3 separate regions of the Homo sapiens genome follow, and all the other regions are linked to region 3. The links come from fine-mapping of genetic effects on gene expression. A gene starts in region 3. Each other region holds a variant in brackets. All regions are shown on one strand. Distances are between the middles of the regions.

Region 1 (8,112 bases), 200 kb before region 3:
TTTATATGCCAGGCAAGAAAAAATCTCTTCCCTACTATGTGTACTCACAGTCTCACATGAGCAAACAGACACTGTGCTGTAATAGTAATAATAATAATAACTACTATCATTTGTTGAGCAATTACTATTTGCTAGGCACAATGATATTTGATAGGGCAGGTACTGTTATCTTCGTTTTACAGAGTGAGGAAACCTACGCATAGTGAGATGAGTAACTTGCCCAGGAGTACAGAGCTATTTTGACTTGGCTACACCACTATAGTATAGGAAGGCAAAGTGCTATGAAAACACACATACGGACTGATGCAGACTATGGGTGCCATGGAAGGTTTCTTAGAGGAGGTAAGGTGGGATGTATCTGTAAACATGCGTATTATTTCCATTGTTAATGATCACAAATACTCCTTCCATGAACATCTGTGCAGATAACTTTCCATTTTGTAGTCCTGCTGCCACTCTCTTCCTTTGCTTAGATCCTAAGAAGTAGAATTCTGGGACAAAAGTTATAGAAATATTCCAAGGCTTTCAATATGTTTTGCCCATAGTTGTCACCAGCTATATGAGGGTATCTACTTTACTGTAGCATTGCCAGCAGTGGGCATTATTACTTCAAAAGTTCTTTGCCATTAATAGAAAACTAGTATTTGATTACTCAGCTGAACATTTTACCATCAATGCTATCTTTAACACACAAATTTAAGATCATTGTAGTTACAACCAGCAGAGTATAAGAGAACATTAACAGTGACAGAACATTCTAGAATGTCTCATAAATACCATAATTTATTCCTATAATCACAAAATTGACTGGGTCACAATTAGCAATATTCAAAGAAAACAAATTTCTGTATTCATGCTAAGATCTTTGACCTCTCAAACTTACTATGAGTTCTAGGAGAACAGTAGAAATGAATTGTTTGATCCTATCACAATCCAGCAAGTAAAACATGTTCTATAATTGTTTGCTATAAAAATAAATAAATAAATAAATAAATAAATAAAATAATGGATAATGACAAAATATAAACTGAAGCCATACTTTCTGAGCTCTATACCCATGACACATAGCTCAGTAAACATCACATTAGGGAAAGATTAAAGAGAAGTAGCATGTTCCCCTCTTTCTCTTCTTGCCATATAAATAGGATAACAATATATTCTAGTTTGCGTGTGACAGTTCTGGTTTATGCCTCTTGTCCGAACATCTTTTCTGATTAGAGCTGCCTTTCAAAGGGTGTTTAATTGGGCAATAAATTTTATGGTCACTCTGCATCTAAAGGATGTCCCCCTAATGAAGAGCTGATCCTAGGAACAAAGTGCTCACTGATCAGACAACTTGTCTTGTGTCACTCGGATTTTCACTTTGAAGACCTATAGCCAGATACCTCATTTGGCCTTTATGTATTTTCATAATATTTTATCATCTGAAGCCAAATAATAATCTGAAAGTAGCTAATTGATAAGGGCATCCTTGACTATCTCAGCACTCTTTATTTCATTTTATTGATAAAAGAAGTGAGGCATGGAAAGAAAATGTGACTTATTCAAGTTCATATCAAGAAAATAATCAGCCATATAAGAGGAAGCTACTGATGCTCTAACTTCTGATTTTTGATTAATTCTCTAAACCACACAGTCATTAATGTACACTGAAATCTCCAGTGAAGTTAGATCAGAAAAATTGCAATCATTTAGTAAATGGCTTTGCAAACTACAGGCAGTAATAATCTATTTCAAACAATATGAACAAAATCATAGGCATACCTTAGATAATACTTTTTCCTTTTTTTCCCCTCAGGCCCTCTTGGATAATATTTTTAATGGGTATAAATTTCATGGTTAATAACATTTCAGTCTCATTAAATAAAAGTCTCTATTCAAACCTAGTTGATAGGTCCAAGCTATCAGAAAGTGAGGAAATATTTATTTATAAAATAAGTTAAAATTTAAAATAAACATTTAATCTTTTTGGTTATTAAAAAATAAAGCTTGGTACATTTTTACATTTCACAAGTATGTCTAAATTTCATACAAAGATGCATAATAGATAAGGTTTTACAAATATCTTGGATTATAACAGAAAATCTTAATGGAGCTAACAAAGTCATTTTCTATAACAACAACAAAGAAACTTATGGTGATAAATTTAATAGACTATTACTAAGAACTATATGAAAAAAAGTGACTCTACTGCTTGCATAAAAGGAGAGGCATACCACATATGAAGTTGGAGAAACTCACTATTACAGATATGACATTTCCATATAATTTATAAACATATTGTAATGTCACTGAAAGTCCCACTTGCATTTTGTAGGGGTGGAGTAAAGACCTCGGTAAAAAGTCATTTAAAGTTCATTCGGAGGTTGGCCAGGCGTGGTGGCTCATGCCTGTAATCCCAGAACTTTTCGAGGCTGAGGTGGGTGGATCACCTGAGGTCAGGAGACAGCCTGGCCAACATGGTGAAACTTCATCTCTACTAGAAATACAAAAAATTAGCTGGGCATGGTGGCATGCACCTGTAATCCCAGCTATGCAGGAGGCTGAGGCTGGAGAAATGCTTGAACTCAGGAGGCGGAGGTTGCAGTGAGCCGAGATTGTGCCACTGCACTACAGCCTGGGCGACAGAGTGAGACTCCCTCTCAATAAATAAATAAAAAGTTCATTTGGAGGAATACATTTTAGGGACTAACCAAGAACACTTTTGTAAAGTATAAATAACCTACAATAATAAAAACAGTATTTTGCTGGTACAGATCAATGGAATAAAATAGGAAGTTCAGAAACAGGCAAGGATGTATATAAGTATTCAATAAATGAGAAAGAACAATGAAAGGATGGATGGATTTAGCCATTTAAATAAAATAAATTGTTTATTATTAATAATATTGTGATAGCTGGCTAAATCCATACCTCACACTATATGTCTAATAAATTCCAGGTGGATTGAACATTTCAATGTATGAAAATGAAAACAAAATATTTGGGGAAGGCTTTTCTATGTACAACTTCCAGGACATAATTTTTTTTTAAAAGACTAATAGATTTGATCACATAAAACATAATACTCATTAAAATAAATGTGTATTAAGGATATCAACCATTTTTCTTCATTTAATCACTTAAATTTATTATTTCTTTTTAAATTTCATTTAGCTTATTTTGACACAAAAATTTTAAAATCTATAAGAAGTTAAAAAAATAAAATATTTATTTACAGTTTCCTTCTTGGATTTTGGCCTAGAAATAACTTTCTTAACCCTAAACTGGACCCATTTTCACTTATATTTTCTCAGAATTTTTCATTTCATATTTTATGTTAATTTAAAAGATGAGAGATCAAATATGGCTTTGTTTCATATTAGCTGTCTGGTTTGGGGATGTTACTTAACCTCTCTGAGTCTCAATTTCAGTTTCCTAAAAAAACAGATATAATGAATACCAGCCTATTGGAGTTGCTATGGCAATGAAAAGAAATCATTTATACAACACATGTGTCATGGTAGAATCTGGTTAATAAAGGTGACCAAAATGTTAGCTATCACTTTGAGTGCTATTGTTATACTTGGTAGCTAGTCGGGTATGAGCAGGGCAGGAAAGGGCTCCCATACCTCACACCAGGAGTGTTGGGAGACCATCAGGTGATGGTCAGGTGGTTGTTAACTGTCTCTCTGAAGTAATAATTGGTCACAGCTGGCGCCAGGGAACGGC[G/A]GTCTCCTAGTAGATAGAAAACACCTAAAACTGGTGACGAGCGGCTTCTCAATAAGATCTCAGGAGTTGGGCAAGTGGTCAGAAGTAGTGCAAGACCCTGGAGGTATGCCATCATATAAAAACCTCAAGTCAAAAGGTCAAGCCATACACTTGTCTTTCAAGTCACCTGCTTGGCCCTCTTCCAAGTGTACTTTCCTTTCTTTTGTTCCTGCTCTAAAGCTTTTAAGTAAACTTTCACTCCTGCTCTAAAACTTGCCTCAGTCTCTCCTTCTGCCTTATGCTTCCTCAGTTGAATTCTTTCTTCTGAAGAGGCAGATACTGAGGTTGCTGCAGACCCATATGAATTTGCCATGGGTAACACTATCACACTGTATATTAGACTCCTTCCCCGCCTTTTTTGGAGGCAAAGTCTCGCTATGATGTCCAGGGTGGAGTTCAGGGGCTATTCACAAATGCAATCATAGCATACTGTGGCCTTGAACTCCTGGCTTCAAGCAATCCTCCCACTTAAGCCTCCCAAGTTGCTGGGACTCCAGGTGCATGCCACTGAGCCTGGCTAGACTTCTTAATTTCATTGGAAAACAGTTGACCCTTAAACAGTGTGGAGGTATGGGGTACCTATCCCCTGCACAGTGGAAAAATCTACATATAACTTTTGATTCCCCAAAAGCTTAACTACTAATGCTGTTGACCGGGAGCTTCATCGATAACAAAAAGTCGATTAACACATAAATAGACTAGTATCTATATATATGTTATGCACTCATAATACACATTTTTTTCTATTTTTTTGATATTTCTAGGCTACAAAGTTCACCCAAGAGTTTTTTCAAATTGTCACAAATCTCCAAACTTTCTAATATATTTATTGAACAAATGAATATATAAGTGGACCAGCACAGTTCAAACATTGTTCAAGGGTCAACTGTATGTATTTTCATGACTAGCAATTTATGGTGATGGTATAGTCACCTGATATAAAAACAAATTTCACAGAATTTAATTATTTTAAAATCAAAATGTATGCCAACCAGAAAAAAATATCTAAATTCTTTGAAAGCTATGCAGCATGCTACAATTTGGTCTTTCAAAGTTGCAGTCCAAAATCATCAGATGGCCAAGTAACAGAGTCATCCAAGGGGAACATCACATACCAGGACTTGTCAGGGGGTGGGGGGGATAGGGGAGGGATAACATTAGGAGAAATACCTAATGTAGGTGATGGGTTGATGGGTGCAACAAACCACCAGGGCACGTGTATACCTATGTAACAAAACTGCACTCTCTGCACATGTAACCTAGAACTTGAAGTATAACAATAAAACAAAAAGTTTTCTTACACATCAGAACTCCTGAGATAATTTATGAGCTTGAAATATAAATAGGATGTTTACCTTCTTTATCTTACCTCTAATAGGCCATCCTCTGGCAGATCAGTACAGTGAACAGCATTCTGGATCTTAGTTTTACCAAAGATTGCTCTGAGAGTTCCAGGGCGTAAATGCCGGGCAATTTCCTATTAAACATACATTCACATATAGATTAATGTTAGTCATATGGTATAAATAAGAAAAACACTAGCTATATGAAACGCTAACTTATTTATGAAATACATGTTATATATAGACAGTGCTTATAAGGGTTTTTCTGTGGCCCAATGTAAAGTCTGCTTTCATCTACATCGGGGAAAAATAATAATTGCATTTCTTTTTATCAATAGATTATGGGAATCACACAAAATGTGAAGCTAGTTCATTACTGTGAAAGACTTGTATTTTATAAAGACAGTAGAGATCTTAACAACTTTGATTTAAAATGAACCAATTTGATGCTATTGATTTCAAAAGCTTTTAAAAAAATGTTAGCTGTATCAACTTAATGGTAGTTCATCTTTAAGAGAAAAAATATGGTCACAAATAGCCCTGAATTTAATGAGGGTTAGAGAGAGGCAAGGGAATGATAATGATGTACAAAAAAATTTAAATTGAGAAAGACAGGAAGAGAGGACCTAGGGGATAAAGAGGTAATTGACAATGAAAAGGTGGATCAATGAATTTGAGCTCCTAGTGGTATGGGATAATTATTGAGATCTGTATGTTAGAAGAAGAGAGCTGGAAAGTTAAAAGATACTCGAGACTGAGATTACTGTGGGTGGGAGGAGAGGGGGCTATAGTGATTGATAATGATCAGTTTTAAGGCATAACCATGGATAAGGTTAGTCTGAGGGCAAGAATGTTAGAAGAAAGAAGAACAACAGATTGAGAGGCCAAGGTCGTAAGTGGGTCACCTCTATGAAAGTGGAAATCAGAAAGAATCATGACAGGTGTAGCTTAGGGTGCAAAGATTCTGAGCAGCACTCACATTTGTGGTTCCATCACTTAAGGATGTTTTAAAGACATGCATTTATTTAATTACTTAAGTTTTATTTGCCAGGGTTCCATCAAATGTCAGCTATAAATGTATTATGTTTAGGAAAAACATTTTGATAAAGTAGAAAATAAGGATGTCTTTATATTTTATTTCATATTTATTACTTTCATTCTGTTCTCCGTAATTTTTCTAGCAAGTAAGTATCCAATATTAAAAACCTACTCAGCTGCGCGTGGTGGCCCACACCTGTAATCCCAACACTTTCAGAGGTAGAGGTGAGTGAATCATTTGTGGTCAGGAGTTCGAGACCAGCCTGGCTAACATGGTGAAGCCCTGTCTCAACATGGTGAAACCCTGTCTCTACAAAAATTAGCTGGGCATGGTGGTGCGTGCCTGTAATACCAGATATTTAGGAGGCTCAGGCAGGAGAATCACCTGAACCTGGGAGATGGAGGTTGCAGTGAGCCGAGACTGTGCATTGCACTCCAGCCTGGACGACAGATCAGACTCCATCTCAGAAAACAAGCAGAAGCCTTACTCTGCTTATATAGTGGGAAGCTGTCATTTTGTGACATAAGATGTAATTTATGAAATTGTGAAAAGTGAGTACTAACGTTCTTTTTCTTATTTCCGGTCAGGGAAAAAAACACTTTTAAATTACTCAGTTCCAGTAAACTGTTTTATTAGAACCTATTCTCTATCAAATTTTGTTTGATGGCCAGGCTCATACCTATAATCGGCACTTTGGGAGGAGTTTGAGAGCAGCCTTGGCAACACAGAGAGACCCCGTTGCTACAAAAAATACAAAAATTAGCCAGGTGTAGTGGTGCACGCCTGTAGTCCCAGCTACTTGGGAGGCTGTGTGGGAGGATGGCTTGAGCCTGTGAGGTCGAGGCTGCAGTGAGCCAAAATGACACCACTGCACTCCAGCCTGGGTTGTCAGACAGAGTAGGACCCTGTCTCAAAAAAAGAAAATTTTATTTAACTTGCACTACATTCATTAAAAGATTACTTTCATATAAGTGTCTGCTACATGCACAGCACTTGAAATCTGAAGAGGTTCATGTGTGTTGGCCTAGCGCGGTGGATCATGCCTGTAATCCCAGCACTTTGGGAGGCCGAGGCGGGTGGATCACCTGAGGTCAGGAGTTAGAGACCAGCCTGATCAACATGGTGAAACCCTGTTTCTACTAAAAATACAAAAATTAGCAGGGCATGGTGGCACGCACCTGTAGTCTCAGCTACTTGGGGGGCTGAGGCAGAAGAATGGCTTGAACCCGGCGGTGCGGAGGTTGCAGTGAGCCGAGATCACGCCACTGCACTCCAGCCTGGGTGAAAGAGCGAGATTCCATCTCAAAAACAACAACAACAACAAAAATGGTTGGTAATTCCTGGCTGTTTTTTTTTTTTTCTTTTTTTTTATGAGTTCTCTATTTGCTTGTCATAGATGCCAGGGACATGCTGCTAGATGAGGTATTCTGGTTGCCTTCCTTTCAGAAGGGGGTGCTACCATTTTTCCTGAGTGTTATTAGCTGCCTTCCCATTGCTCTGCCTCTTTAGCTCAAGCCCCACATTCAGTGCCTTAGGCTGTGGCTAAAAGTATCAACTGCCTTCTGCTCAATGTAAGCAAGCAAATGTGAAGGCGCTGATTTACTCTGCTGCTCTTCATGCAGCCCTCCAACTAACCACCCTGCTTAAGGCCCCATGCCCTTCCTCAGCCTTGCATCCATATGTCTGATGTGCAGCCCACCCAGTACCCCTACCCCTTCTGGAGCAGTTCTCTCCTGCACGTTTTAGAGTGTTGGTTTTCCTCAACGATACAATCCTATCTGCTTTGAGTCTTTTGAAGTTTATGGCCTGTAACAAAACTAAAAAAAAACAAAAAAAAAACAAACCCACAAAAACAAAAACATACGTGTGTGTGTGTGTGTGTGTGTGTGTGTGTGTATGTGTATGTGTGTACTCTTCCTTGTTTTCCAGCATCACTGGAGATTTACTCTTTAAAACAACACACAGTGAAACAGTATCTCC
Region 2 (8,112 bases), 210 kb before region 3:
CTTCAAAACAATACCTGGTGAAATGACTGCGGATTCATATCAATGAATGAATGAAATTTAAATAAAATAACATGTGGTAGTTAACTTAAAATTAAGCCATGGATTAAGGAGATAAAATTAATTTTTAATTCCTCATGTTACATTGAAGAACTCAATATTATAAAAAAATCTCTGGCTTTTTATTTTGAATTTGAAAATCAGAGGCCAAGCACGGTGGCTCACACCTGTAATCCCAGCACTTTGGGAGGCCAAGGTGAGCAGATCAGGAGTTCGAGACCAGCCTGGCCAATATGGTAAAACACCGTCTCTACTAAAAACATGAAAATTAGATGGGCATGGTGGCGTGCACCTGCAGTCCCAGCTACTCAGGAGGCTGAGGCAGAAGAGTCGCTTGAACCCGGGAAGTGGAGGTTGCAGTGAGCTGAGATCAAGCCAGTGCACTCCAGTCTGGGCGACAGAGCAAGACTCTGTCTAAAAAAAAAAAAAAAATCAGAATTTTCTACCTTTGTCCATTAGTCCTAGTTAAATAAATATTTTTAAAAATATTTGTGCCCATGTATAAGTGTTAAAGAATACTCTATTTCTCCAAATAATTATAAAGGATTTTTTCTTTATTTTTAAAATATGTTTTTAAAATTTGTATAATTTAAAAAAATTTTTTTTTAAGATAGAGACAGGGTCTTGCTGTGTTGTCCAGGCTGGTCTTGAACTCCTTGGCTCAAGCAATCCTTCTGCCTCAGCCTCCCAAAGTGCTGGGATTACCACAGCACCTGTCCCAATTTTCTTTAACATAGATAAAATCACCACTCGCAGGACTCAACTAGTTTACATTCCTCTTTGACCTATGAAATGTGATATATGTTTTCCATATCAAGTTTGAATAAAATTATCAATCAAAGACTCCATAAGCATGTGTAACTTAGCCCAGTTGCTCCCAACCACCAGATGGTGAGGGTCTAGGATGACATTTCACTGCTTTCTGGCAAAATGGGAAAAATGAGGGCAACAAAGCAGTGATGAAGCAAGGGTTGGCAGGAGTAGTCCACCCTGGGGAAGGGGCAGTATTTTCTCACTGACGTTGTTTGGAACTGCCTGTTTATGGTGATAACAAAAAGCAGACAAACTATTAGTGGATTCTATTATTGTTTTAAAATGATCTACAGAAGATGCAATGCTGTTTTGCCTGTGCCTGAAGTGGACTGCTTCGACCATCATGCCTTTGGCATGCAATAGCAATAAAGTGAGCTTCAGGTAAAGCTGAATTTATTCAGTTGAAGAGACAGTCCATTATTCTGTGATAAAATGCTGTTGGTGATTAAATGTCCTTTTAAAACAAAACGATGATGATGGGAAACAAATTTTTCTAATGTCTTCATTTGTTAAATTTTAAAAACTTTATCATTGTGTCTATCCCTGAAGTGGGTTTTATTACTGTTTAGTTTTTTTTTTTTTTTTGAAATGTTCCAGGTCTGTGAAATGTCAAATCTGACAACAGCTTGACAAAAATTAATCAAGAGAACAACTTGACTTAATGGAGAGTGCACAGTGTTTTTTGGCTCAGAACAGTGGCTCTCCAAGTGTGGTACTCTAAACCAATAGCATCAGCACTAACTGGGAACTTGTTAGAATGCAAATTCTCAGGCTCTATCTCAGGTCTACTGAACTAGACACTGGGGGGTACAGCCCAGCAATCCGTATTTTTAAAAAGCCCAGCCAGGCATGGTGGCTCACACCTGTAATTTCCAACACTTTGAGAGACCAAGGTGGGACGATTGCTTGAGCCCAGGAGTTCTAGAGCAGCCTGGGCAACACAGGGGGACCCTGTCTCTACAAAAAAAAATTAGTGGGGCATGACGGTGCATGCCTGTGGTCCTAGCTGCTAGGGAGGCTGAGGAGGGATCACTTGAGCCTGGGAGGTCGAGGTTGCAGTGAGCTGTGATCATGCCACTACATTCCAGCCTGGGTGACAGAGTGAGACTCTGTCTCAAAAAAATTAAAAAAAAAATTAAAAAGCCATCCAGGAATTGTGCTACTGTTTGAGAACCATTTCCCAGGGAATAGGTAGAGAAGATGCAAAAAGTGCTGAGACAAAATGCCTGGAGATTCTTAAATGCCCCCTGTAAGGTCACTTTTAGTCCAATGATTGTGTCTATTTATTTTATATGGATTTTCCATAGTTATTAATTAACCAATTTATACAAAATAAATTAATCTAAAATAATCCTAGAGTCTTCGGCAAATGATTTTATAAGTGCCTATATAAAGTGGGATAAATTATATTAAATACAGTTCTTAAGTCATTAAGCTTGTTACTTTTCAGATTCAGAAGGCAGCCTATCTGAAGAAAGGTGGAGCTGGCACTGTACTTGAGAAACAGAAAGACCTATGAACCTGTAACTCCCTTTGAATCTAGCAATGAACTTATGCCCCACTATGACGGGATATAGGAGGGAATGTGAAATTGCTCCTTATCCAAGATTCTTTTATCTGAGAAAACAACCAATGCTGATGAAATACTAACTGGGCCATAAAGAATTACAATTTGATAGCTTAAGGCCTCTTATATTATCATGATGTTTTTACGATGAATGTAGAGACTTCTGAAATATCAGGTTTGAGAAGGAAGAAAAGAATCCATGCAAACCATTCGCTTTCCACATGCACATATTTCAGGTTTTACTTGAATAAACAGCAATGAAAGAAGATGCTGGTGGACGTGGCCTTTTTAATTGATACATAATAATTGTTCACATTTTTGGGATGCTGCAGTGGACTTTTCTGGCAACTGGCAGGTGGAGGGAATGGTGAGATGTGGTACTTGAAAGTGGGGCTCACTCTCATCAGGTCATTGAGACATTTCCGCCACATAAAGAGAGAGAGGGTATGGAGGTGCACTGTCCCCATTCATGATATATTCCCACATGCATTTACTCAACAGACTAAAAGCCTGCAATATGTTAGCAGCTGGAGATACAAAAGTCCCTTATAAGCCCAGGTCCTCAAGGCACTTACACAACCCACAGGGAGAATGACAAGAGTTGGTCCCCTGTACACCTCTGAGCCACATGACCATGCCAAATGGTGAGTGCAGATTTGATGAACCTGCAGATAACTATTTTAAGCTGCAAGAAACCCAGGGCCTCTGCCCTTGTTACCCTCAGCATCCATGCAATACATGCATACCACATATCTCAGGCCTCTCCTCCTCCCTGGGAGGGCAAATGGCAGCCTTCACATTGAGACTTCCCCCCAAAAAATCTGGGTAATCAATCAGGTCATGGCTGGCTCCTTCCACAGAAGCCACAGATTCCCCCATTCAGAGACTGGAGTTCC[G/C]TTGGAAGTGTAACAACCCTTGGCTACAATTAAATCCATCTAGAGAGGCTATTGATCCTTTCAAAGTTAAGAGGCTGCTGCTGCTTCCAACTGTCAGTTAAGTCCTGAAAGCAAAACAATCCCTTTGCTGGCCTTCTCACAGGGTCTAGGCTTTCCTCAAAAGCAGAACCAAAGCCGACTTCGAAGAAGTCTGGTGTATGTCTTCTTTTGAGAAGTGTCTGTTCATGTCCTTTTTGATGGAGGTTTTTTATCTTTTTGGTAAATTTGTTTAAGTTTTGTATAAGTGCTGGATATTAGACCTTTGTGAGATGCACAGTTTGCCCAAATTTTCTCCCATTCGATAGGTTGTCTGTTTACTATGTTGATAGGTTCTTTTACAAGTTTTAAAAAAGTCTGGTGTGCCCCTACTCACTGGGACAGTGGTTTCTAAATGCTAGTTTAACTATCAGCCATATCAGAATATCAGAATCACCTGCAACATAAAATACAGTAGTGCCCCCTTATAAGTGGGGAATATGTTCCAGTTCCCCCAGTGGATGCCTGAAACTGTGGATAGTACCGAACTCTATCTATACTACGTTTTTCCATATGTATGAGAGATAAAGTTTAATTTATAAATTAGGCACAGTAAGAGATTAACAATAAAATAGCATAATTATAACAATATACTGTAATATTTCCTCATACTACTCAGAACGGCATACAATTTAAAACTTTTTATTTTTTAATTTTTGCAACCCTGCTCTTTAAGGTACCATACAATTTAAAACTTATAAATTGTTTATTTCTGGAATTTTCCATTTTATATTTTTGGGCCATGGTTGACCATGGGTAACTGAAGCTGTGGAAAGTGAAACCATGAATAACGGGGCTCTACTCTATAGATATAAGGAGCTCATACCAGACCTCCTTAACCAGAATCTTCTATAATAGGGCTCTAGGCTTACATAGTTAAAAAAAACTCTATAGGTGATTTTAATGCATGCCATTGATTGGGAACCGCTGCACTAGGACGGTAGTTCTCAAATTTCATGGGCATCAGAAGCACCTGGAGGGCTTGTTAAAGCACAGATTCCTGGGTCAAATCCCCGAGTTGCTAAGCAGCTGGCCTACAGTGGACCCCGAGAATTTCATTTCCCCTAAGTTCTCAGGTGATGCAGCTGTTCTGGAGCAGGGGAGGACACATAAGAACCACTGCACTAGGGATTAGCTAGGGCCAGTTCCATTGGAAGCCTGTTTACTAGCTAAATGCCTCTTGACCACCTGGAGAAGATACTGCTTTTTACCTTTCCAACATTCATTCTCCCTTTCTTCCTTCTAACAGTATCTTGATTTTTGCTAGTGGGAGCAATGTTCCCAAGTAACAGAACTACATTTACTCACTTCCTTTCTAAAAAGGGGCGGCCACAGTACTAAATCCCAGCAACAACAAAAATCATAACCTGAAGCTGTTGGGTGAGGGCTCTGGTTTTTGGAAAAGCTTAAAGGTGGGCGAGGGAGGAAGTGTTAGCTCAGCTGGCATTCTTCGCCTTTTGCCCTCACTCTTCTTTCTTTATGCCTGGAAAAAAGAAGTGATAACTCGAGTTCTGACAACCATTCTGTGGCAACAAGGCAAAAAGCACATACTAAAGATGATGACGGTACCAAGGAGGAGGAGACTGGGTGACTGATGGTATTACGGAGTTGCCATACCAGTCCCACATGCCTACCTTCAGATCTCAAATTATGGGGCGGAAAAATAAAAGTTCTCATTTTTAAAGATGATTTTAAGGTCTCTATTTACTAGTGACCAGAAAATTAATTATTAATTTGTCACACCCCAACCCACCAACATGGAGGCCATTATATTCACCTCTTTTCTCCGATCCTGCTATTCTCACATGGCTCTGAGATTCTTCTTCCCTTCCCCAATCTCTAACTATTCCTATTGCTTTCTGCAGAACTTCAGTGCCATTGTAAACTCCCTTGAAACTTGAATCTCTTCATAGGCCTCTTAGCCTTAAATGAAACTTGGATATCCCCTAAGGGCATCAATTCCTTGGAGTCCGCAGGATAAGAATCTCTGGCCAGGAGGGTAGGAGTAGTTCTATCCTTTGTCCCAGTGCTACTTTAAGACCTCCTCCCCTTATATATGAACTCCTGACTTTTTGAGGCTTATGCCATCTGGCTAGATCTTTTCTCCTTGTTGCTGTCACACCTTTGGTTCACAAACTTCCCTAGTTTGTGAAAGACTTCAGAATTTGAGTCACCATTTTCTTCTCCACCCTACCTCCTAACCATGATCCTAGGTGATTTCAATGCCACTCAACATGAAAGCTTCTCTCAGTTCCTAGACTTACATATCTCTAGTGACTGATACTGATCTCCACTCCACACTGGCTACCTCCTTCCATGGCCACACCCTGAATCATATCATCCATTACCATGGAAAGCTCCACTTCTGAAGTGTACAGTGACACAGCTCTTTCCCTGTTATTCCTGGGGTCTCTGTAGGTACCTTAGAAAAGCATTCGGTCCCTTGGCCCATCTACTTTATCCCTTTCTTCAAGCACCTCCTGCCATCACATCTTTCCTTGTTTATAACTTCAACTATAGTTGCTAACATCCTCAATTATCTTTCCTCATCGTACCCTCCTGTAAAAACCTCACCCCTGGGCCAAACTGTTCACCAGAAAATAATAACACCATAATACATGTAATCTCCTAAATCAACTGAATTGTAAATACAACCCATAAATATATATTCTGTCATCAGCACTTTCTCCATGGCCACTTCAAACTTTGTCTACTATCTCTTATTCAAGACTCCTGGTACTAGATGTTTTGGAATTTACAATAATAATCTGGAATATATAGTATATATTATATAATACTCCAAGGGGTCTGGGAAGTCACTCATCATCAAATACATTAATATTTTTACAGCAGTGTGAAGAGTCACACTAAATAGGTTAAATAAAAATGATATACATTAAATGTTTTGTCAAGCTACTGAAACAAAACTGTTTAATGATACACAACTTGATATAAGACAGGTTAGGTTTTACCATTAAACTTATGAAAAAACTTTGGTTTTCAGACATTTTTAGATTATTAGATTTTGGTAACACAGATAAAGATGGTACTATCACGTTTGCTTGGGGATAGGCATTAATCTGGATTCATTCCCACAGGCTACCTTTCACATCCAATTAGTCTCTGAGGCTTTCTGTTCTACCCCACTAAATGTCTTTTGAAGCTCACTGCTTCTGGCTATCCCTTCTGCCATAGCAATTCAGGAAACCAGAATTTTCTCCTGAATTACTTAATAGACTTCTACCTAGTCTCTGTCCCCCTAGACTCCACCCACTTGTTTCCCTGCCTGACCCCAGGGCCCTTTCATCTGTTCTCTATACTGCAGCCAGAGTGACCTCTATAACACAGGTATCATTGTGCTATTCCCCTGAGTAAAACATTTATTTGGATCCCTAATGGCCTCAAGATGAAGTTCAGTTGTCTTAATATGACTTTACGAGGCCCCTGCTGATGTTTCCAGCTTTATCTCTTGCCATTTTCTACCTCCTGGTCAAAGCCCCAGTCTTACTGCACTATTTTTAGATCTCTAAGAGAAAGCTGTTTGCTTTTGTATTTGTACAAGTTGTTCCCTCTTTGACAATGTACTACTAAAAATCACAACTCTTCTTCTTTCAAGATAGAAGCTAAAACTAAAGATAAATTATGAGTGTCAGTATGTGCAGAGGCCTGCGTTAATCACGGCCAAGAAATTGGGGCCTGTCCAATCATCTTAGTCACCATGCACCTATGTTTATTTCTGATTAATCCTTGATTCACTATTTTTTCCCCCAGAGTGTACCAGAATAAGAATCCATGCAGAAGTAATTATGTATCCAAATTCAGATTTGATCAACTACTTATGAAACTGACTTTGCAAAGATTATGACAGTGAGAGGAGTCTAGCATAGCTGACTCCATCTTGCTTCTGGCCTCACAGACTGGCTGTCTTCACTCATTCCTGGGTGTCAGCCAAGCTCACCATGAGAGGAACTTAGTCTATAGTTTAACCTGAAAACAAGAACTAACCCCTTCCTGGCTAGGGAACTGAAAACTGTCTTTGTAAAACTAATGAAAAGCCACAATATTAATATTATGGGAGGGGCCTGAATGCTGCTAAAATGTAGACCTAGGTTCTATAATGCTTTACTGCTCAGGGGTCATGTGGTCCAGAGGTCACAAGATTTGTGATCTCCCCAATTGATCCCATAGGTAACATCACTATCGTAAAACCTAAGATTGGTCTTTTGAGATGTTTTTTTTAGATATGCATTCCGGCAACCGATGGACCTCACCTTGACCCTGACTTATGACTCAACTGATCCTGTGGCCCCACCCAGAGGTAGACTCAGCACAAGAGGACCGTTTTCTACATCTCTATGATTTCATCCCCAGTCAGTCAGCAGTACACACTTCCTAGCCCTTGCCCACCAAATTGTCCATAAAAACCTTAACCTTTGATCCTTTGGGGAGACTGATTTGAGTAATAATTCCATCTCTTATGTGGGCGGCCTCTTGTCAATTAAAATGGTAACTTCAATACCACAGTCTTGGTGAACTGATTTTCTCTGTGCAGGGGGCAGGAAGAACCCGTTGGGCAATTAAACTTATACATACAATTAAATATTTTATATGCTTCTTAAAATTTTATAATCACAAAAGTGGTATCACCAAGTTACAGAACATTTAGAAAAAAAAAAACAGGAAAGACCTATGTTTTCATCATCC
Region 3 (5,462 bases):
CCTAAGATTGGTCTTGAGATATTTTCCAGGCTTCTGCATTCTGGCAAACCTCCTGATGCCACCCAGATACATGCCTCATACCAAGAAACTGACTCTACTAGTCCTATGACTCTCACCTAGACAACTGACTCAGCACAGGAAGACAGTTTGGAAACACCTATAAATTCATCCCCAACCAATCAGCAGCGCCCATTCCCTACCAACCTGCCCACAAAATTATCCTTGAAAACCACAACTTCCAAGCTGTCAGGGAGGCGGATTTTAGAAATATTTCCCATCCTTCCACTCAACTGCCTTGCCTCCATTAAACTCTTTCTCTGCTGCAACTCCTGCATTCTCAATGTTTGGCCTTTCTGGGAAGTGGGCAAGAAGAACACGTTGGCCTGTAATAGGAGAATAAATAAGTTTGGCAAGCAACAAGAGGGTGCAAGTATTCTGTGTAGAAGGAATTGCAAGTGCAAAGTAGAAAGAGGAGGCATACTACCAGTTTGAAGTTGCTTGGTATGTTCAATGAAAAGCAAGTAGCTAAAAGGCAAGAGAATTTTTTTTTTTTAAGTATGGAAAGGGAAAGGCAAAAGCTAGACAGAAAAGTGCTTGTTCATGGAGGAACTTGTGTGCCATTCTAGACATTTTACTGTAGGAAATAGGGAATCTAGAGTTTTAAGGAGGTGAGTAAATCAACAGGTTGGGTTTTTAAAAATTCCTTCTTGTGGCAGAGAAAATAATGGATTGGAGAATTTCCAGACCAGACTGTAAAAGTCACTATTAAAATAATCACGAAATGAGGAGATGACAAACTAAAATTTGATCTAGTGAACAACTGAATATGGGAGAAATAGAAGAGGGAGGAATGTAGGATAACTCTGATTTCTAGTTTAGGTTATAATATAGTAGTAGCATTATTTAACTTGGTGAAAATAGGAGAAACCAGGAGGAAAGATAGCAAGTTCAGTTTTGGTCATATTAAGTTTGAAGGACATTTGAGACAGATGTGTCCGGGAAGCAACTGAGTTAGGCATTAGTAGATCTGAGAGGAAAATTGAAATTTAGAAGCAAAATCAAAGGTGTTAGTAGAATCCATGTGAGTGGACAAAATCACCCAAGGAAAATGTCTAGACTAAGAAATGAAAGTAATCAAGGAGTTAATTCCAAAGAATGACATTCAAAAACCAGGCACAGCCAGTAAAAGGAATTAATGACTATGAACCTCAGTTGTCACAAAGAGACTAAGTAATGTAAATTTTGAGAAGTAATTACTGTATTTGGTATTTAAAAGGCCATTAGAAACTTAAGCAAGAACAACTTTCTTGAAGCCATTAAAGAAGCCAGACAGAAGACTTTTGTCTGTTTGATATAAGTAAAAATAATATCCTTTCAAGAAGTTTACTGATAGATAGGAGGACTAGGAAATAACTGGATAAACACAGGATGGAGGACATGGTTTTGCTTTATTTAATTTTCATAAGATGTGTGACTTGAGCACTGAAGAGAAGAAACTGGAGAGGAAAAGGCTGAACGCACAGGAAAGAAAAAAACAACTGGAAGCGAAATGTAACAGATGGAAGCAAATGAGATCAAGAGCAAAGATGGATGGATTATCCTTTAATATCCCTTTCTCTACACTAGAAATACAAGACTAAAGGCTCGGCAAAAATATAGAGCAATGTGTAGGTTGGGGGCATGAGGTTGAAGAAATGGCCTGTTATACTCCATCATGTTTAGAAAGGAGAAATGAAGAGGGCAAAAGACAGGGTTTGTAAAGGGAAGGTTTGAAAATGTCTTCACAGAGAATGGGTCAGGGGAAAACTGGGGTAACCAAAAGGATTGCTGAGTAGTATGAAGAAACAAGGGGTGGTGGGTGAGGGCTCTGTTTCTAAATTCATAGCTATAACTATCTAAAGATCTTTCTATCCTCCAGTCCGTTATCCATAAGTGCTTAAAAGATATGGTAGTTAAGTGAATTAACTAGAACCCTCTCAAACATAGGGGTGAATTAAAATAACCTATAGGCTTATTTAAAATGCAAATACCGAGCTCCATTCCTTTCATTCAGAATTTCCAGGGGTGAAGCCCAAACAGTGAATTCCAGAAGCTCTCCAAGCAATCCCAGGAGAAATTTCTGTTTAAAAAAAAAAGAAGAAGAAAGAAAAGAAAAGAGAAAAGAAAAGCAAGCACAGACCTAGAAGGTAACCAACTGGATAGAAGAGCGCTGATCCAACATACACCTGTTAATGGCCCTCGTGGGGGCGTGGGGCAGTGCTCTGCCACTCAGAAAAGCAAAAAGACTCCAAGATCTAGGGAGATTCAGATCAGTGTTGAGACAGTCACATACACACCACCCCATACTCTTAATAAAGCGCGTTAATGTGAATCTGTGAACATGAAAAATGCCATGATGAACAATGCAAACACATAATGTTTGTTCAAAACAGGTTATTAGACTCGATGCCTTACCCTAAATTTTCTGTTTCATTACTCTAGAGACTTAGTAACATTAGTGGAATTCAGGGTGCTGTAAGAAATACGGAGAGCGAGGAGACTGCAGGAACAGCCCGTGGGAAGGGGGAAAGAGATAACGGGGAGAAGGTCGGGAGGACCGGACAACTTTAAGTGCCCATCCGCCCGAAGACTTGGAAAGCTAAGTAAGTAGGACCCCAGAGCCGTTCTTCTGGCATCCCCTGGCACTCACCATTGTCTCAGGATCTCAGCACTAGAAAATAGGTATCGTTGAGACAGGAAGACACCACCACCACCACCATCATACGGTTACTCAGGCAACAAAGCCCCGCCCACTGTCGCACGAGGCGTGGGACGCCACCGCCCCACCTCTTCGTCCTTAGTGGCTGGGAGTAATCTCAGCTGCGTTCATCCAATCGACAGACCCGCCCCTCCACGCTGTCGCCTGGGGCTACGAGACGCCATTATTCTGTTTCCGGCAGTTTTACTTCCGTTTGTTTAACAGCTGGCCCGGAAGTTTAAGTGAATATGCGGCTTGGGCTCCAAAAGTTGCTGTACGGTATTTTATTTTAAAGTAGAAATCTGTCCGCTTTTCACTTACGGAGGCCTTACAGTGTGTGTTCTGTGTTACTTGAGTTTATACGCACTGCAGAATTTGTTTACCCTGCTCTTTTGGAAACGTATTCCGGAAGCGAAACCCTGAGTAATCGGAAGTGGTTAGGAGTGAGAGAGCTGCTGGATATGCGGAGGGACTGGGCGGGTCGGCTTCCGAATGGAAGAGGTCTGTGAGAAGTTAACCTGGTGATACCGATCCGAAGAGCCTATCAAGTGAAGCCCCCTGAAATACGGAGAATAAGAATCTTAGAGGTAAATCCGAGGACAAGCAGGTATAACTAAGGATGTTGGAAAGGGACGGAGGTCTGGCTGGAGCTCGGTGGCCAGTAGCTTTGGATTTAGGGAAAGATTGTTCCGGGAAGACTTTTTCAGACAGGGATGAAACTTAGGTTTCGACTTCCCCGGACAGCAAAGTTGACAGGCTTGTCGCTTCCCGGCCTATCGCTTTCATACCTGCTCACTCCCCCTACTTACTTCTTCACCCCCTCCGCTTCATTTGGCATTTGCCAGCAGGCACTCGCTGTGCCTGTACGTTTCGCAGAGCAGCTATCAAGGGCAGTTTCAGGGATCGTTACTCTTACGAAGGGTTTTTTGGATACCTCTTTTCGGAGCAGTAGAGTGTAAGTGTAGAAAAGTTTGTGACTGTTAAGAAAGTTAGTCGTCGGGTTCACTAATTGAACTGAGTTGTATCTAGTACTGAGAACGATCTTTTTTTGTAGTGAAACCAGTTGTCATCTAGTGTACAGTTTGTCATATTTATATCATTGCAGTAGCATCACCTTCTTATATGTTCTCTGGTAAATCTGAGTCTGTACTGTAAGACAATGTATACATTTCTGAAAGCATGGGCTCGATATGTTTCTCTTTTTACTTTTGGAGCTACACTATTTTAATTTTAACTTTTTATTACCAAAAAAGTATAAATTATGTTATCTTGAGTAATATTTTTTGTCGTTTGTTAAACATCTAAACAGAAGCTCCTTTTTGATATGTGTGTGTGTGTATACAAATTGTGTCGGTATGTCTCCTAAGAAAGTAATTACTTTAAAATTCCTCTTGTCATATGGATGACAAAACCACCACAGTAACTTCATTCCCTTTGCTTGGCTAAAATTCAGGACATACTTCTGACAATTTAGAGTGTATTGGTGAGGATGGTGAAACGGAGTATTTAGAAGTAAACCACCCCTAATTTTTTTTTTTGAGACTTTTAGTAGACATAACAATGCCTTCTGTGAGAATGGGATATAAGGGACATTTCTCTTTCTAAATGCATGCGTACTAAATACAGAAGCAATTAAAATATCATAACTTTTAAATTGGAGGTACTCTATGTGTTTATATGATATTTTTAAAATTATTTCATATGCATACATTTCTAGGTTGTTCAGCAGAAGTCTTGGAGTGCATTTTCAGTGGTTAAGGTGAAAAAATGACTACTAAAAATTTAGAAACCAAAGGTAAGTGGCTTTTTTATAATTGTTTTTAAAACATGACATTTATGACGATGTGAAGGAACGTTTGAGCCAGATAACTAGATCTCATGGACCCCCTTGGGAATCATTTGTTATTTCAGATCCCTTTATGTTTATTTTTTAGTGCAGTGTTTATATTTCAGTACTTTAGATGTACAAGTGAAATTTAACATCATTAGTTAGAATTTATTAGGTGACTACTCTTAAACATTTAATGTTAATGCAAAGTTTTTAACAGCTATATTCCCTATACACTAGAAGATTACGATTTAAATAAGAATACACATTTTAAAGATTTAAGTAGATAGACAAAGCAACTAGGGTGTATCAAAGATCTCTTTCATGTTGTATTAGTTTGCTGGGGTTGCTGTAACAAAGTACCACAAACTGCATGGCTTGAACAACAAAATGTATTCTCTCAGTTCTGGAGGCTAGAAGTCCAAGATGAAAATGTCAACAAGGCTGTGCTCCTTCGGAAGGCATTAGAGACACTCTCCTAGCTTCCAGTGGCTTGCTGGCAGTCTTTGGTGCTCCTTGTCTTGTAGACGTACCACCCTTATCTCCGCCTTCATATTCACATGGCATTCTCCCTATGTGCATGTTTCTGTGTCTAAATTTACCCTTTTTATAAAGACAGCAGTCATATTGAAAAAAGGAACCCAGTCTACTCCTGTATGATTTCATCTTAACTAATTACATCTGCAGTGATCCTGTTTCCAAATGAAGTCTCATTCTGAGGTAGTGGGGGGTTAGTACTTCAACAAATAAAGATTTGGGGGACACAATTCAACCCCTAAATTGCTAAATACAGTAGTCACTTTTTAGTCCTAGCTGATTTGTCCTCTCTAATATTTAATACTGTTGACCATTCCCTGCCTTTTGAGATACGTTCTTTTGATGACTTCCATGACATCA

Alleles and levels. Positions count from the first base shown, and alleles are read on the strand shown. Sizes are in standard deviations (SD) of each study's normalised expression.
In carriers of allele G in region 1, the expression in fibroblasts of the gene that starts at base 2,779 in region 3 tends to be lower than with A alone (moderate effect, 0.57 SD a copy in GTEx).
With allele C in place of G in region 2, the expression in macrophages of the gene that starts at base 2,779 in region 3 is higher (moderate effect, 0.59 SD a copy in Nedelec 2016).

What was found. PIP is the estimated chance that this variant, and not a neighbour inherited with it, causes the effect.
Region 1: its variant is the best candidate, but not a certain one, in a credible set for the expression of NME7 in fibroblasts (GTEx, PIP 0.83).
Region 2: its variant is the best candidate, but not a certain one, in a credible set for the expression of NME7 in macrophages (Nedelec 2016, PIP 0.72).

What each region holds. Positions count from the first base shown.
Region 1 is chr1:169,164,328-169,172,439 of GRCh38, forward strand. NME7 (NME/NM23 family member 7) reads right to left here. Exons shown (of 12, transcript NM_013330.5): 11 at 5,120-5,227. Among named protein-coding and RNA genes, the nearest start is that of ATP1B1, 62 kb to the left of the region's middle. The variant G/A (reference allele first, on the strand shown) is at 3,712.
Region 2 is chr1:169,154,324-169,162,435 of GRCh38, forward strand. All of the region lies in intron 11 of NME7 (NME/NM23 family member 7), which reads right to left. Among named protein-coding and RNA genes, the nearest start is that of ATP1B1, 52 kb to the left of the region's middle. RefSeq lists an enhancer at 7,462-7,721. The variant G/C (reference allele first, on the strand shown) is at 3,334.
Region 3 is chr1:169,365,019-169,370,480 of GRCh38, forward strand. NME7 (NME/NM23 family member 7) reads right to left here and starts at 2,779. Exons shown (of 12, transcript NM_013330.5): 1 at 2,690-2,779. The coding sequence starts at 2,692. It overlaps BLZF1 (basic leucine zipper nuclear factor 1), which reads left to right and starts at 3,177. Exons shown (of 7, transcript NM_001320973.2): 1 at 3,177-3,324; 2 at 4,455-4,532. The coding sequence starts at 4,505. RefSeq lists enhancers at 2,616-3,815, 2,755-3,256, 2,919-2,998, 3,257-3,756.